Linked DNA regions of Homo sapiens: region 2 is linked to region 1. The links come from fine-mapping of genetic effects on plasma protein levels. A gene starts in region 1. The other region holds a variant in brackets. All regions are shown on one strand. Distances are from middle to middle.

Region 1 (8,339 bases):
GAGTAAAGAATAAGGACAGTTAGGTAAAAAGTATTTTGCACCACTAACTTAATCAATGGTGGCCTCACCTATTGTAGAACCAGTGTATAATTTTATATAGTATGCAACCACGGGTCTGGAAACCTGGGCTTTTATCCCGACTATGCTATTAACTACCACTTTAATACTCTAGATCTTCATTTTCTCACCTGTAAAATAAGCAGTTGGATGGACAATAACCACAACTTCCTTGTTAGGTGATCTATAAAAATCGGCTGCCATGGGTAGAGTAGTGTCCAGCTTCTCTAACAAGAACCATGCTTAGTAATCCTTTAGTGTTAATTTACCCAGAGATGCCACTTACACAGCATGGTACCCACTCCTCATTTTTCTCCCACAGCTATTATAGACCACAGTACTTCTCCCTAGCCAGAATGCGAGTCATAATCTTCTTTTTCCCCCCGATGGTGTCTTAGGCAACCATAAGCAAAATAATGGGAGATGGCACTCAAGTTGCAAGCAGTTTGCTACTTATCATTACAGGCATGGTTATATTGAAGGCAACAGTTCCTAATATAGCTAAAAAGAACACTTACATCCCGTTAGCACATTCCTCCCATCTCTAAAGCATTATAAGGTGTCATCAGTTCCACCAGCATAAAGCAGTTGCTGATACCCTGGGCGTAACCAAAATGGATCAATTAGCTTTACAGTTAAAGAGGCCTGAATGTATAGAATTCATTTCCCTTCTTTATGAAGTCAGCCTCTGTTCTGAGAGAAAAGTCTTCCATAAAAGTAACAAACTCACACCTTCAACAAGTAGAGATTAATATCTTGATTTCTTGATCTTTGTCATCCCATCCACTTATTTTCTTAATCTCCAAATGTATAGAAGCTTAGACCAAGGAGCTGTGTTTGTTTTAGTTCTGATGAAAAGCCCTAACAATGTTATTAGATAACTGTGATAAATTTTAATCTGATGACAGCTTGTGACCCACAAATTGCTGTTTAAAATTAAAATGCATTTAAAATGAAATTGGCAAGAGAACTATAATATTAAACTTACAATCTGCTGTGATAAAACACCAATGTATTTTACTATATTAAATATGAATACAATGAATAGTATCTTGCAATTGAAATATAAAAATGTCCTTAAATGCATTTTCTTATTAAATTAAAATTGGTTGATTAATCTTACTTTTTATCTTTGTTTTGCAAATTAAAAAGTTGAAGTAGAGATGGATTGGATTGGCTTTGGTAATATACCCTTTGGCAGAACTCCAGGTAAAATCTAGGGCTACAGGCTTCTAGGTTTCTCATCTGATGAGCAAAAGTCCTCATTTTTCTCATCCCGAATATTCATCTACAGTAAATCAAGACATGTTTTTCACATGCTTCAGTTTATTTATAACTTTTAAGATATAATTACTCAAGATGTATCAAATGTGATCTTTAAACTTTTTTATATGTTAGTTTTGAAAAAATGACTACACTGATATTGTTGGCAGACCAGCTAAATCATTGCTACCTTAGTAAGAATTGAGATTTTTCTGTAATGAATGTTTGTGTCAGTCTATTATTAAGCAATACTATAAATAAAACTCAACCCAATGTGTATGTTTTCATCCCACATTTCAGCATTGAAGAATTGTATGTGGTAACGAAATAATTCACTACAGCTGTTTGCAAATAATTTAATAATCAAGTCATAGCTATTTTCTACTTCTCAAAATGTGCCAAAGAACTATTGAAAACTCCACAATATAACATCATAATTATAACAATTAACATGTGTATTTAATAATAGCTTTAATAATCCTATGCATTATTTGCTCAAAAGATTCATGATACATTTAAATAATAGCGTTAGCTGGAATAAGAAAGTACCATATTTCACTCCTACTATTGTACACAGAGAATAAAATTCACCCACTCTTTTAAAAAAGATACTGCAAGGATTGTAATTTCAGAACAATTATTTTTACTCATTACCCCTAGAACATAGTATACACTCAGCAAATGTTGCTTGAAGGAATGAATGGATATGTGTGATTGGATGAGAAGCACACTCAGGGAAAATGCCTCGTCTCTGGTTGTTACAGGACTACTGCATGGACAACTGCTGTCACAGTAGGGTTTCTAAAATCTCCCTGCCATATTTTATTTTGGTTCATGTGTGTGTGACAATGATAAGGAATTCAGCCTAGCAAGTCTGTCTGCATTAAATAGAGGTGCTATGTATGCAAAAAGCAGGGACACCACATATAATATCTCTCAGGTACTTCCCAAGGTTTGCTTCCTCACGAGACTTGATATTGATTCTGGTGCCTCAAATCTATTTATATTTGGGAGCAGTCTCACTGTTACTCTTGGTTACACCTTATCAAATCTGTCCGAGGGACAGTGCCTAACCCAGGGTTGTCAGCTTTGGAACTGTAATTGTTTTTTTTTTTTTTTTTTTTTTTTTTTTTTTTAATATGCCAGCGGACGCTAGCCACGGTGCTGAAAGAGACAAGAGGATTCTATTTGAAACCTTTTCTTCCTCTTATTGGCTTAGAAAATTCGAGTGACAAGAGCAGGGGCCAAAGGAGCCTGGTGCAGCATCACTAATGTGAACCATGTATTTCGATCTTTTGGGCGGAGATGTGGTCCATCAGGTTACAGCCAATGCCTTCCTATGAGCGCTCGCTAGACCAAGAGACCTTATGAATGTAGTAGCCGCTGCAGTAGAAAAGGTTACATCTAGCAGGATGTCTTATCCCTCTCCTGAAAAATTGACAGTTAAGTGCATAGCCTAGAAACAAGAGCAGGGAATCTAGACGGAGGGGAGGCGAAGGGGGGAGCAAACCTGTATTCATATTGAAAATGTTCACTATTTTCGTATAAAGTAAAGAAAAATCAAGAGCTAATTTTAGGTTAAGTTTTCGGCCTCAGTTTTCCAACAGGTGCACGACTCCCTCACCCCTTCCCTGTCAGGTACTGTCCTGTTTTACCTTTTTAGAAAGGCTTTCTTCGCAAGGCAAGCTTTTCCTAGAGTCCTTAAGCATGTGCAGTTTCCCATCTCATGCACAGCTCCGGCTCTAAGCCTGGCAACCCCTTACCTGCAGCGTGAAGATTAAGGAGCAGGCACAGCGCAGGGAAGCAGACTGCTCTCCGCATAGTGTTTGCATTGAGAGGTGGAGGAGAAACTCCACCACGACCCCACTTCAGGTAAAGTGCTATTAGAAAGAGCCACCGCCAAGGGTCTTCTAGTCTCCGGGATTCAGGTCCTCGGCTGGGGTTTGCAGAGCAGTCAGTCTGTGGCGCCGACAGAAACCAGCACCAGCTTCAACCTCCCTAAGAGAGGGAGAGAGGAAGAGCAGTAGGAGGTTGCGGGTAAGGGGAACAGAAGCGCTCAGAGGCGGCAAATGCCTGGCCTTCTGGACGCCCAGAAGCCAAGGCGGAGACGGCAGGGTGGACTCCGCGCCAGCCCAGCAGCCCAGCAGCAGCGCCGCGGCTACTGAGCATGCCCAGCGCCGGCCCTCACGAGGCAAGGGAATTTCAAAGTGAAATTCCGCTTCTCCGGGTCTTAGCGGCGGCTTGGAGCAGAGTAGGCTCCATCGCTGGGGTGGTGGTTGGGGGTGGGGGTGGGGGTGGGGAAGGGGGAAGTGCGGGGGAGACACTTGCTGTGGTTACTAGGGACCCAGCGTCCATCACAAATCCGAAGGTGGGGTGTAGCTGAGTGAGAGTAGATGGGGGCACGACCACAGGAGTCAGAGGAGGGAGCTGATGACATTGTCAACCATGCCACCCACCCTACTCTTTCCCCAAATCTTGATTTACACGTGGACCGAGCTCACTGCTGGGAATTGGCATTTGCAGATTGACCAGCTTCCCAGGACTCGCCTACAGGAATAGAGGTGTCTTCCACTGCTGAGCATTCTGGCTGCTCGGGGGAAGCGTTCCCAAGGCAGCTTGCTTGGTGTAAGCAGTAACCATGTATCTTGGGGGTGACTTCGTCCTTCCTACAGCTTCCCCCTCTTTGCTTCTCTTTCCACTCTTTCCAGCTCAATGACTGTATTTAAACTTTCTTCTGACTCAAGTCCTCACAGTGACAGAAAGAAGTGAGAAGATACTTTTAGACTAGTAGAATATATCCATGTAATTGAAGCACAAGAAGGCACCTTTTTGTTTCGTGGAGGTAATTAACTTTAGTTTCCCTTTTACTCTTTAAGGTGAAAGATAATGGATCACGTCAGTGCCTGGACTCATCCGGCCCAGCTCTGTGTCTCTAGGGAGGCTACCACAGTCTGCCATTAGATGGTTTTTTATCCCTCCATCTAAGTCTTTGGAGTGTGGAAAGCCTTATTAGTCATGGCTAATTGCTGCTAGTCAAGTCAAGAAGTCCCTCAGCTAGACTTCTCTTTTAACTATCCCAGGGCCTCTGCCCTTTCTGCCTCTGTGTCTTTATGGACACTGTTGCCTCTTTCCCATTTTCCTCCACTTGCACCACCACCACACTAGTTTTCGAAGGTGTAATGTTGGTCTCACTTTTCCAGAAAGCCCTAACTCTAACTAACTCTAGATTACAGTGATCTTTCTCTTCCACAACACTTGTTTAGCCGTGCCTCATATTATTCTTTCAGACAGTTCATTTATCTGTGGTTTGTTCTACAGCACATTGAAGTCTCCATAAGAACTGCTGAGTTTTGTATTCCATTAACTTGAATAAAGTTGTCCTAGCCAAATAATTGGGGCTAACAAGTGCCCATTGAGTTGAGCTGCACATCTCATTCAGTGCTTTCTTTCTCCATCCTCTGTGAATTGAGACAACTAATGGGAAATAGGCTATCCACCAGAGCTTAAATTAGGTGGGACCTTATAAGATCAGAGAGCCCAGGCGGTACCATTTATTTCTTTTATGATTTATGTCATCTTCAGCTCTGAGAGACAAGGCCAGGAAGCACTCCAACAAGTGGGAGAAGGGGACAATGAGATGTACTTTTAATATCTTGACAGGCCTTCTCTGCTGAAAATAGAGACATATCTCCATGTCTAGCCCCTCTCTAGCAACGTGCTCCACCCCCTACTCCCCCATGCGTGTGGCACACTCCATTTCTGTGGCACTATCATTTCATCCCAAACCACTCTAAGCTGCAACCTCTTCTCCTATTCCTGATTCACTGTCCTCCAGTTTGCTTTTCCCGTATCACTTTCTAACAAACCAAAATAATTACTTATAAAATCTATTGTTTAGTATCTATTTCCCTACTCCCCCCCGCAAAACAGAATTTGAGCTCCAATGTTGAAGAACTTTGATGACTTTATTGATATGTCCCAACTCCCTAGAGCAATGCCTCATGCAAAATAGATACTCAAAAATGAATAAATGAAAATGATAGTTGACAAAGTTCAATACTGACAATTAACTCTTTGAAATTCTTACTGAGTCAACCTTTGAGATAATTTATTTAGCATTCTGTAAAGCTTAGAAGAATAACTCTTCTCATCTAACATCTGTTACTAGAAATGCTGCAGGGCTGGAGGTTAGGGAAAAATAATTGTATCCCACTTACAATAGGTCTATTTTTCTTATTTTCTTGTTTCCTAAAATAACTAATTATCAAACTTACATAGATCTCCAAGAATAAAATATACTTACTTATGGTAATGAAACAATGCTGCAGTAATGTTCTGAACCCCTTCCTTTTCCACAGATAATTCCAACATTTATTGGTGGGGCATTTAAAATTCCCATTATTATAATTGACTATGACTTTGCCAAAAAGCATCCTGCTGGCAATGTATTTTGTTCAGGGCTGCAGGTAGCTGAATTGTTAAACTATGCATGAAAATTCCGTTAGCAGCAAAAATTTCCAATTTCCAATTTGGCTGGATATATCATTAGAATAGTTAGTTCAGCATGGTAAAAATAACCCTGAGTGGGCTGTAATTTTGGTGACTAGACATTCATTATTAATTTACTTAGAAATGATAAAGTAACGAAAAAGGTCATATTCCTATGTGAGTCAATCTAATATCATACTTGTAACGGCTTCAATTCACTTTTTCACTAATTGGCTAATTCACTCATTGCTGTTCGTGAAGTCAAACAGCAATGAATGAATTAGCCAATTAGTGAAAAAGTCAACCACTTAACTCATACAGAAATATTCTGAGTCGATAGGTGCTGTTTTTCCTTAACTGTGATCTAATGCTAGTGAAGGTGACTTGGTGTTTTGGAAAAAAAGCTTGGTTAAAACACTGCATCAGGGTTTTAAAAAGTTAGCTGTAATTCAAAGAAGCATGGAAATTACTATGAGAGAACTATACAAATTAGTAGTGGCCTACAGAGCTATGTCATAAAAGAATCATTTACATTTTACAAGATAAATAAAAAATATCATATGGAATTTTCCTCCACATAAGATGCATAATTTCTTTTTCTTATGAGGTGAGTCTTAGAGAAAATTTATGCAAGAAAGAAGCTTTTCAGAGCCTGCCTTCAAAACAGATTTAATCATTATGAGCATCCATATTTACTTCTCTATAAATGGATGAAAATTATTCATGTCAGCCATCTTTCCTTAAGACACTTTAAATTGAGAAATCAGATCCATTGATTATAAGGATCTCCTACTTAAGTTATTTAGATTACTATTATTTAAGTATAATTATGGCTAACATTGACTGTGCTTCCTGTGTGCCAGGTTCTATTCTAAGCATTTGGATGTCCTATTTAAACATTATAATATTTCTACAAAAGGATACTATAATGATCTCATTTTAGAGATAATATAGTTGAGGCATGGAGAAGTAACTTGCCCAAAATCAAGTAGTAAGTAATCAGTTAAAAAGTAAATTGATAGAATTAAGATGTACATCTGATAATTTGATACCAAACCACTATATTATACTACCTCTAATAACACACACACACACACACACACACAGACACACACACACTCAGTTGTAGGTTGCTCACTAGAATTAGATGATTAGATCAGGGCTGGGCATGAGATGCCTGGCCCCACAGTAAAGCTCTGTGTTGAGGAACACTCATAGAAGACTGTCTCCAGGAGAACAAGAGACACTGCTTGTGGCAGTGGACTCTGGGCCCTAGCATCTAGTGAACAAAGACAGCAAGTAAAATCATGCTTAGAGGAACTGTGTTAGAAAGATGCTTAAGATAGAATGGAGAAGAATGGAGGAAATGATTTCTTCTATGGAGGGTGGGAGCAGAGGAGGGGATGGGCAGCAGGCAAGAAACTGGTGGGCAACAGGAAACGAACTGAGTCTGGCTGGATAAGTAGGTTCTAACTGCTCTACATGAAGAGAAAGGCCAGGGAATTGTGTGAGCCAGTGGCAGAGATATAAAGCAGCAAAATGGATTCAAGGAACTTCTGAACATGTAAGGGAGCAATAGGTAACAGTTATAAACACCTCACTAAGATTTGTTCTGTGCTTGCCCTTTCCCATCCTTTATGCAGCCACTTTATCAATCCCAAAGTCTGTTTCCTTTTGTCTGAGAGCTATCTTTTATAAGAGGAGAAAAGAAGAAAAATAATTTCTTTTTACAAAGTAAATAATTGATGTGAATTAAGCTATATTCAGAGTGGAATATAGCTCAGGATGAAAAGGAATGAATTCAAAATTCACAGATGAAAATACCATGTTCAGGTATATAAATTCACCATTATTATTTTTTAGTATTTTCCCAACCATAACAAGAAGAATGATCTACCCTTTCTCATAAGCATACAGTGAAGAGAACAATGAAATTGCAAGGGGCAATAAGAATAGGGGAGGAAAAGCACTAAAATTCTAAAAATATATATTATCACATTGAAGTCTCACAAGAGCTGTGTGAAGTATTATTTTTTTTTTTTTTTTGTAGTAGAGGAGAAAACTGAAGCTCAGCGAAGCTAGTAATTTGCCTATAGCCATCCAGTTGGTAAGTGGTGAAGCTGGGATTAGAACTCAGGTATGGTGACCCCTAGCACTATGCTGTTATCAGCTGTATTGTACAACATCCCTGCTTAATGACCGAACTTATTTTAATACTTAAATTGAAAACAGTGTTCTTATCCCAAGACACAGACTTCAAGATGGATAACAACAATTACATTTTATAACTTAACACAGTTGTAGTTTTGTTAAATTAAAGCATTTGATACACACACACAAAGGCAGCAATATGTATCCTAAGGAAAAAAATTAGGTACCTAAAACAAGGCAGATATACTTTTCTGTGCATATGTGAATTATGCTATTGTAGTAAAACATAAAATATGAAAAGCAGAAAGGCTATATGTACCTATAGATTCTGCTATTGGTTCATCATTAAAATTTTATTCAAAACGAAGAACAAAGTTTTC
Region 2 (8,339 bases), 160 kb before region 1:
TAGTTAGGATTACAAACATAAGCCACCATGCCCACCCAGAGCTTTTTATACCACACCTGTGATACTAAAATGAGAGGCAGTGTGATTTACTGTAAAGGTGAATAGACCAGGGATCAGGACATCTAGATTTTGGACAGGGAAGATGGCTCACTCACATCTGTAATCCCAGCACTTTTGGAGGCCAAGGTGGGAGAATTGCTTGAGGCCAGGCATTCAAGACCAGCCTGGGCAACATAGTAAAACCCTGCCTCTATAAGAGAGAAAAAAAAGACACCTAGATCTTAGGTGGTGCTTTACGCCTCTCTTGTTCTGTCACCTTGAGGGAGTCACTTAATTTCTATGGGCCATACTTTCTGTATCTACAAGGTGTTACACATATTCCCTCCAGTTTAATTTCATGATTCCATGAATTGAATTACACGTATTTAGGATGATGATCCTTTCAGTAGGTTTGTTAGAGCGGGATGGAGTAATAGAATTGGAAAGGAAATTAAATCCATTCAGGAGTGAGATGGTGGAGGTGGTAGAGGAAATTTTTTAAAAGCGACAAATTTGGAAAATACTATGAAGAAACATCTATAGTTCTTAAGACTTAAGTTCTTTAAAAAACTATAGTTTCTTCAGAAAAAGAAAAATCACATTTCAAATTAATTTCAAAGTTATGGGAAAAGGCGAATATCTGGTGACCATTTTGACAATGACGACAATGAGGGGAGGGGTGCACCTGTAGAGAAAGAAAGGTTTAAATGTATTTTTGTTTATTTGACATATCAGTTTCAAGCGATCAATTGACAAAATACATCTAAATCTTCTTTCTTCTAGAAAATTTACTGGATAAGTCAAAATAAGTTATAAGGCCACAAAGGTTTGAAGAAGAAAAATGCCAAAAAGTGAAAACCTTAATGTGAAAGTGCATTTCCTTAAGAAGTAAACATATACAATGTAAAGATCAGAGAATTCTGACACTCAGGGAAATTTTTATTATCAAATAACATACAATAAACAACTTCCATCTCAAAGCCTCTTGGGGTTGAATTACCATAGCATGCTAACTGTTCACATTTTTAAATGAATTGTTTCGTGCAACAACATACCTCAGGAGAGACTTCTGTAATTCCAAACTGGGATAAACTTTGATGCAAAACATTGATATTAAGTGAACGAAGAACTTCCTCAGAGGGCAGAGCATCAGAAATTCCTGTTTTTCGGTTTATGGGAGACACAAACAGTTCAATACTGTTCTTCTTTCCCTAATAAAAGCAGAATATTTGTATTTGTTATAGACATTTTAAACAACTTTGGATAATATTTTTACCTGTCCTTTAGAAACATTAAAGGAAGTCAGAATTCTAGAATCCTAAAAGGCTTTGTGGAGATTATATTTATTAGTTATTCTCTGATAGACTTAATGTTACCAGTCCAAAGTCTAAAATCTTCAAATAGCTTTCTTGCCATTAGTTGCCACCCCCCAAGATTTGTAATTTTATATTTCAGTGCATGCTTGCATGCTGATTCATTTACCATTCCATATTGTAATTTTTTGATGTAGATTGTTCAGATGTTCCCTGAGTAATTATGTTTAAAGAAGCATTTTAAAATCAAATGAATTAAAGTCCAAAGTAATAGTAAAATTACAAAATTACATATTAGACATCACCACTCTCTCTATTATTTTTATAACTTGTGTTAATGTGAAGGCTTGGCTAGCTAAAGAAGATGGTGCCAGATGATCTTTGAAGTCCTTTTCCTGATACTGTTCTTCACGTCAAATATGTCACACATTTAAAATTGGTCATTTGGTGGAAATGCATATCTTATGTAGTGATGTCATGAGACTTTTCCTATTAGTATTACCTCATTAGCTGAAATGGAGTCAGAGAATTTCTTACCATAAATGTCTGATATCCTACACACACATACACACACACACACACACAGAGAGCAGACAAAACCATGGCGATTGATAATATTATCTTTCACAACTTACACAACACACTAATAGAAGGAAATTATTCTTAGCTTTCTTTCTGACACATGGAGAGCTCTCATGCTAGAAAGTTTTCTTTTAATGTGCTTTATCAGAATTTTAGCTGGTATAAAATGAAGTATCAGTTTACTACTAGCAAGCCAGTAAAAGTTTTTTCATGTTTGCAGAGAACAACAGACAATAACTAAATACTGATGTGAAACATGTTTATAACAATTTAAATAGTTTGTGACCCAATAACAACTACTGTAGGTACAGAGCACTTGTGTTGTGCCTAACATGCTATTTACCTTAAATCTTTTATCTCATTTATTGCTCAAAACACCGCTAAGCGATAGGTATTATGGTTATCTCTATTTTACAAATAAAACGTAAGAGGCTTGCCCACATTCACATACATGGAATATGGCCACACTGGAAATGAAGTATGGTTTTGTCTGTCTCCAAAACACATGATGCTAATCAACATGCTTTGCTATGTCAGGTATTGTAACTCTAGCTATTATAATAACTACTTTGAACCATGCTACTAACATTCTCTGAGGATATGATAAGCATATTCCTTCCTCAGTCTGGCAAATCCCTCCTTCACCCTTGCAAACAGCTATTATGCTCATTAAACCTAATATGTATAAAAGTATATCTAAGATATCTATATCATCTCTCTATATATCTTAGCAAAATATATATGCACAGGTTGATGCATATATATTTTTATATGTATATATTGTATATATATAAAAAATCTAGATCTAGATCCAAGACTTTTTTTCTTTTTTTTTGAGATGGAGTTTCGCTCTTGTTGTCCAGGCTGGAGTGCCATGGAGTGATCTCTGCTCACTGCAACTTCCACCTCCTGGGTTCAAGTGATTCTCCTGCCTCAGCCTCCTGAGTAGCTGGGATTACAGATGCCTGCCACCATGCCCGGCCAATTTTTTGTATTTTAAGTAGTAGAGATGGGGTTTTACCATGTTGGCCAGGCTGGTCTCAAACTCCTGACCTCCAGTTATCCACCCTCCTGGCCTCCCAAAGTTCTGGGATTACAGGCGTGAGCCACCGGGTAACCTTCACTCATTCAGGGGAATGTTGTATTTCTTCTTCTGTGGTATGAGTTAAAACTTTTTAACAGCTTGTTTACTTCTAGAACATTGTTGATTCACAGAATACAAATTTTTATGAAGAAATGAAACAACTCACTCTCTACACACAGAAAAAATAAAAAGAAACATAAACCCCAAACCAAAACAAAAAGCAAATTCCCTCCATAGTGAATGCAGATGGGTGCAATAGAAAGCTGAGCTCCATGCAGCAGAAGCACAGCAATTTAAGGCTGGGGGAACATGGAGTCCTTGCTTAGACTCCCATTGCAGTGGACATTAAGAGCAATTTAAAACCTGTACAGTGATCCCAAAGTTCCTTTTCACATAAAACTGAGGTGACTAGCTTTTTACAGAAAGACAGTCATCTGATCTGAATTTACTTTTTTTTTGGCCTTTGCTCACGCCCACTTTCCAGTGCAGATGGGAACATGTAGTTGCATGAAATCCAGGTTCCCAAACACCGAGGAAAGAGAGGAAATAATGGATGTGGGTGATTGACATATAGGCCTAGACTGGGCCCTATACAACAGATCCTTTGGGTTTACTTTTTTTTTTTTTTTTTTTACTTTACCCACTCAGATGCCCATTCAAGTTTTCTCTTGGTTTTCCTGGACTACCAATTCCTGCATTCCACCTGGGCTGCAGTCCTCAGGGTCAGTTCTTTATTCTTTATTTAAAATGCCCTGCCTTGTGCACTCAATGTCCATTGTTCTACTGATATACTTGAAAGTATATCAATAATGTCTGGAAACTGCCTCACCTGATATACTTGAAAGTATATCAATAATGTCTGGAAACTGCCTTACCTGATATAGAAGCTTTCACTCTAATGGAGAATATTTTCGGAGTAGTGTCAGGTTGGTAAGGCAAGTGTTTTGGGCTCTTTCATATTTACCACAGGACCTAGACTTGAACTATGACAGAGTTAACAAACTTCCTCTATAAAGGGCCAGATGATAAACAGTTTAGGCTTCATGAGCCAATCTTTTGCAACTACTGAACTCTGCCACTGTAATACAAAAGGCATCATGGGCAATGGGTAGATGAGCAGATATAGCTTGTTTCATAAAATTTTATTTGCAAAAACATGACGTGCCGGATTTGGCTCATTAGCCATACAACTATAGCATGAGCCCTTTAGTGATTAAAAAAACCACACACACGGCTTGAATTTTGGAAATGCGAAATGTGGGTATCTTACAATGAGGC[G/A]ATTGATGTGCACTTGCTGGGGTAAGAGTCCTAAAGCTGCAGCCACTCCTTGGCGGAAGATCCGAAGCAAGGTTATGTTCAGCTTGTTTACATCCATTTGCAGTGTCTAGAAAATAAGGACAAAAATAAATCCAAATTATAGTATTAATTTGTATAGATGTATAGAATACATCCAAATAAGTATTAATAAGTTCACGACATTCAGTTCTTGACTCATGACTGACCACAGTTTCTGTGACTCTGCTAAGTTTACACTAATAATGCTTTATTGCATTTTTGATAGAAATAAAATTATAGGAACATTGCATGTGAAATTTTAAATGGTATTAGTTAAAAAGATGTATTATAGGGGTGGAGCCAAGATGGCCAAATAGGAACAGCTCCAGTCTACAGCTCCCAGTGTGAGTGATGCAGAAGATGGGTGATTTCTGCATTTCCATCTGAGGTACCAGGTTCATCTCACTAGGGAGTGCCAGACAGTGGGCGCAGGACAGTGGGTGCAGTGCACCGTGCACGAGCCGAAGCAGGGTGAGGCATTGCCTCACTCGGGAAGTGCAAGGGCTCAGGGAGTTCCCTTTCCTATTCAAAGAAAGGGGTGACAGACGGCACCTGGAAAATCGGGTCACTCCCACCCCAATACTGCGCTTTTCCGACGGGCTTAAAAAATGGCACACCAGGAGATTATATCCCTCACCTGGCTTGGAGGGTCCTATGCCCATGGAGTCTTGCTGATTGCTAGCACAGCAGTCTGAGATCAAACTGCAAGGCAGCAGTGAGGCTGGGGGAGGGGTGCCCGCCATTGCCCAGGCTCACTTAGGTAAACAAAGCAGCCGGGAAGCTCCAACTGGGTGGAGCCCACCACAGCTCAAGGAGGCCTGCCTGCCTCTGTAGGCTCCACCTCTGGGGGCAGGGCACAGACAAACAAAAAGACAGCAGTAACCTCTGCAGACTTAAATGTCCCTGTCTGAGAGCTTTGAAGAGAGCAGTGGTTCTCCCAGCATGCAGCTGGAGATCTGAGAACGGGTAGACTGCCTCCTCAAGTGGGTCCCTGACCCCTGACCCCTGAGCAGGCTAACTGGGAGGCACCCCCCCAGAAGGGGCAGACTGACACCTCACACAGCCGGGTACTCCTCTGAGACAAAACTTCAAGAGGAACGATCAGACAGCAGCATTCGCAGTTCACAAACATCTGGTGTTCTGCAGCCACCGCTGCTATTACCCAAGAAAACAGGGTCTGGAGTAGACCTCTAGAAAACTCCAACAGACCTGCAGCTGAGGGTCCTGTCTGTTAGAAGGAAAACTAACAAACAGAAAGGACATCCACACCAAAAACCCATGTGCACATCACCATCATCAAAGACCAAAAGTAGATAAAACCACAAAGATGGGGAAAAAACAGAGCAGAAAAACTGGAAACTCTAAAAAGCAGAGCGCCTCTCCTCCTCCAAAGGAACACAGCTCCTCACCAGCAACGGAACAAAGCTGGACAGAGAATGACTTTGACGAGTTGAGAGAAGAAGGCTTCAGACAATGAAACTACTCCGAGCTACAGGAGGAAATTCAAACCAAAGGCAAAGAAGTTGAAAACTTTGAAAAAAATTTAGACAAATGTATAACTAGAATAACCAATACAGAGAAGTGCTTAAAGGAGCTGATGGAGCTGAAAGCCAAGGCTTGAGAACTACGTGAAGAATGCAGAAGCCTCAGGAGCTGATGCAATCAACTGGAAGAAAGGGTATCAGTGATGGAAGATGAAATGAATGAAATTAAGCGAGAAGGGAAGTTTAGAGAAAAAAGAATAAAAAGAAGTGAACAAAGCCTCCAAGAAATATGGGACTATGTGAAAAGACCAAATCTACGTCTGATTGGTGTACTTGAACGTGACGGGGAGAATGGAACCAAGTTGGAAAACACTCTGCAGGATATTATCCAGGAGAACTTCCCCAATCTAGCAAGGCAGGCCAGCATTCAGATTCAGGAAATACAGAGAATGCCACAAAGATACTCCTCGAGAAGAGCAACTCCAAGACACATAATTGTCAGATTCACCAAAGTTGAAAAGAAGGAAAAAATGTTAAGGGCAGCCAGAGAGAAAGGTCGGGTTACCCACAACGGGAAGCCCATCAGACTAACAGCGGATCTCTCAACAGAAACTCTACAAGCCAGAAGAGAGTGGGGGCCAATATTCAACATTCTTAAAGAAAAGAATTTTCAACCCGGAATTTTATATCCAGCCAAGCTAAGCTTCATAAGTGAAGGAGAAATAAAATACTTTACAGACAAGCAAATGCTGAGAGATTTTGTCACCACCAGGCCTGCCCTAAAAGAACTTCTGAAGGAAGCGCTAAACATGGAAAGGAACAACCGGTACCAGCCACTGCAAAATCACGCCAAAATGTAAAGACCATCGAGACTAGGAAGAAACTACATCAACTAATGAGCAAAATAATCAGCTAACATCATAATGACAGGATCAAATTCACACATAACAATATTAACTTTAAATGTAAATGGACTAAATGCTCCAGTTAAAAGACACAGACTGGCAAATTGGATAAAGAGTCAAGACCCATCAGTGTGCTGTATTCAGGAAACCCATCTCATGTGCAGAGACACACATAGGCTCAAAATAAAGGGATGGAGGAAGATCTACCAAGAAAATGGAAAACAAAAAATTACAGGGGTTGCAATCCTAGTCTCTGATAAAACAGACTTTAAACCAACAAAGATCAAAAGAGACAAAGGCGGCCATTACATAATGGTAAAGGGATCAATTCAACAAGAAGAGCTAACTATCCTAAATATATATGCACCCAATACAGGAGCACCCAGATTCATAAAGCCAGTCCTGAGTGACCTACAAAGAGACTTAGACTCCTACACAATAATAATGGGAGACGTTAACACCCCACTGTCAACATTAGACAGATCAACGAGATAGAAAGTTAACAAGGATACCCAGGAATTGAATTCAGCTCTGCACCAAGCAGACCTAATAGACATCTACAGAATTCTCCATCCCAAATCAACAGAATATACATTTTTTTCAGCACCACACCACACCTGTTCCAAAATTGACCACATACTTGGAAGTAAAGCTCTCCTCAGCAAATGTAAAAGAACAGAAATTGTAACAATTGTCTCTCAGACCACAGTGCAATCAAAGTAGAACTCAGGATTAAGAAACTCACTCAAAACCACTCAACTACATGGAAAATGAACAACCTGCTCCTGAATGACTACTGGGTACATAACGAAATGAAGGCAGAAATAAAGATGTTCTTTGAAACCAATGAGAACAAAGACACAACATACCAGAATCTCTGGGACACATTCAAAGCAGTGTGTAGAGGGAAATTTATAGCACTAAATGCCCACAAGAGAAAGCAGGAAAGATCCAAAACTGACACCCTAACATCACAATTAAAAGAACTAGAAAAGCAACAGCAAACACATTCAAAAGCTAGCAGAAGGCAAGAAATAACTAAAATCAGAGCAGAACTGAAGGAAATAGAGACACAAAAAACCCTTCAAAAAATTAATGAATCCAGGAGCTGGTTTTTTGAAAGGATCAACAAAATTGATAGACTGCTAGCAAGACTAATAAAGCAAGAGAAGAATCAAATAGACGCAATAAAAAATGATAAAGGGGATATCACCATCGATCCCACAGAAATACAAACTACCATCAGAGAATACTACAAACACCTCTACGCAAATAAACTAGAAAATCTAGAAGAAATGGATAAATTCCTTGACACATGCACTTTCCCAAGACTAAACCAGGAAGAAGTTGAATCTCTGAATAGACCAAAAATAGGATCTGAAATTGTGGCAATAATCAATAACTTACCAACCAAAAAGAGTCCAGGACCAGATGGATTCATAGCTGAATTCTAACAGAGGTACAAGGAGGAACTGGTACCATTCCTTCTGAAACTATTCCAATCAATAGAAAAAGAGGGAATCCTCCCTAACTCATTTTATGAGGCCAGCATCATCCTGATACCAAAGCCGGGCAGAGATACAACAAAAAAAGAGAA

Which allele goes with the higher level. Positions count from the first base shown, and alleles are read on the strand shown. Strength reflects both the effect of a copy and how common the allele is.
In carriers of allele A in region 2, the plasma level of the protein whose gene starts at base 3,489 in region 1 tends to be lower than with G alone (moderate association).

The links. PIP is the posterior inclusion probability: the model's chance that the variant is causal. The UK Biobank Pharma Proteomics Project read protein levels with antibody pairs (Olink). The fine-mapping took linkage between variants from a reference panel, not from the people measured, so its PIPs are less certain.
Region 2: its variant is fine-mapped to the plasma level of the PTPRR protein (UK Biobank, PIP above 0.99). The variant lies in the coding sequence of PTPRR. If it changes the protein, the assay may bind it differently, which can mimic a change of level.

What each region holds. Positions count from the first base shown.
Region 1 is chr12:70,917,250-70,925,588 of GRCh38, forward strand. PTPRR (protein tyrosine phosphatase receptor type R) reads right to left here and starts at 3,489. Exons shown (of 14, transcript NM_002849.4): 1 at 3,084-3,489. The coding sequence starts at 3,141.
Region 2 is chr12:70,760,377-70,768,715 of GRCh38, forward strand. It overlaps PTPRR (protein tyrosine phosphatase receptor type R), which reads right to left. Exons shown (of 14, transcript NM_002849.4): 3 at 4,289-4,402; 4 at 1,095-1,250. The region is part of intron 1 of LOC124902960 (a long non-coding RNA gene); the gene reads left to right. Among named protein-coding and RNA genes, the nearest start is that of PTPRB, 130 kb to the left of the region's middle. The variant G/A (reference allele first, on the strand shown) is at 4,297.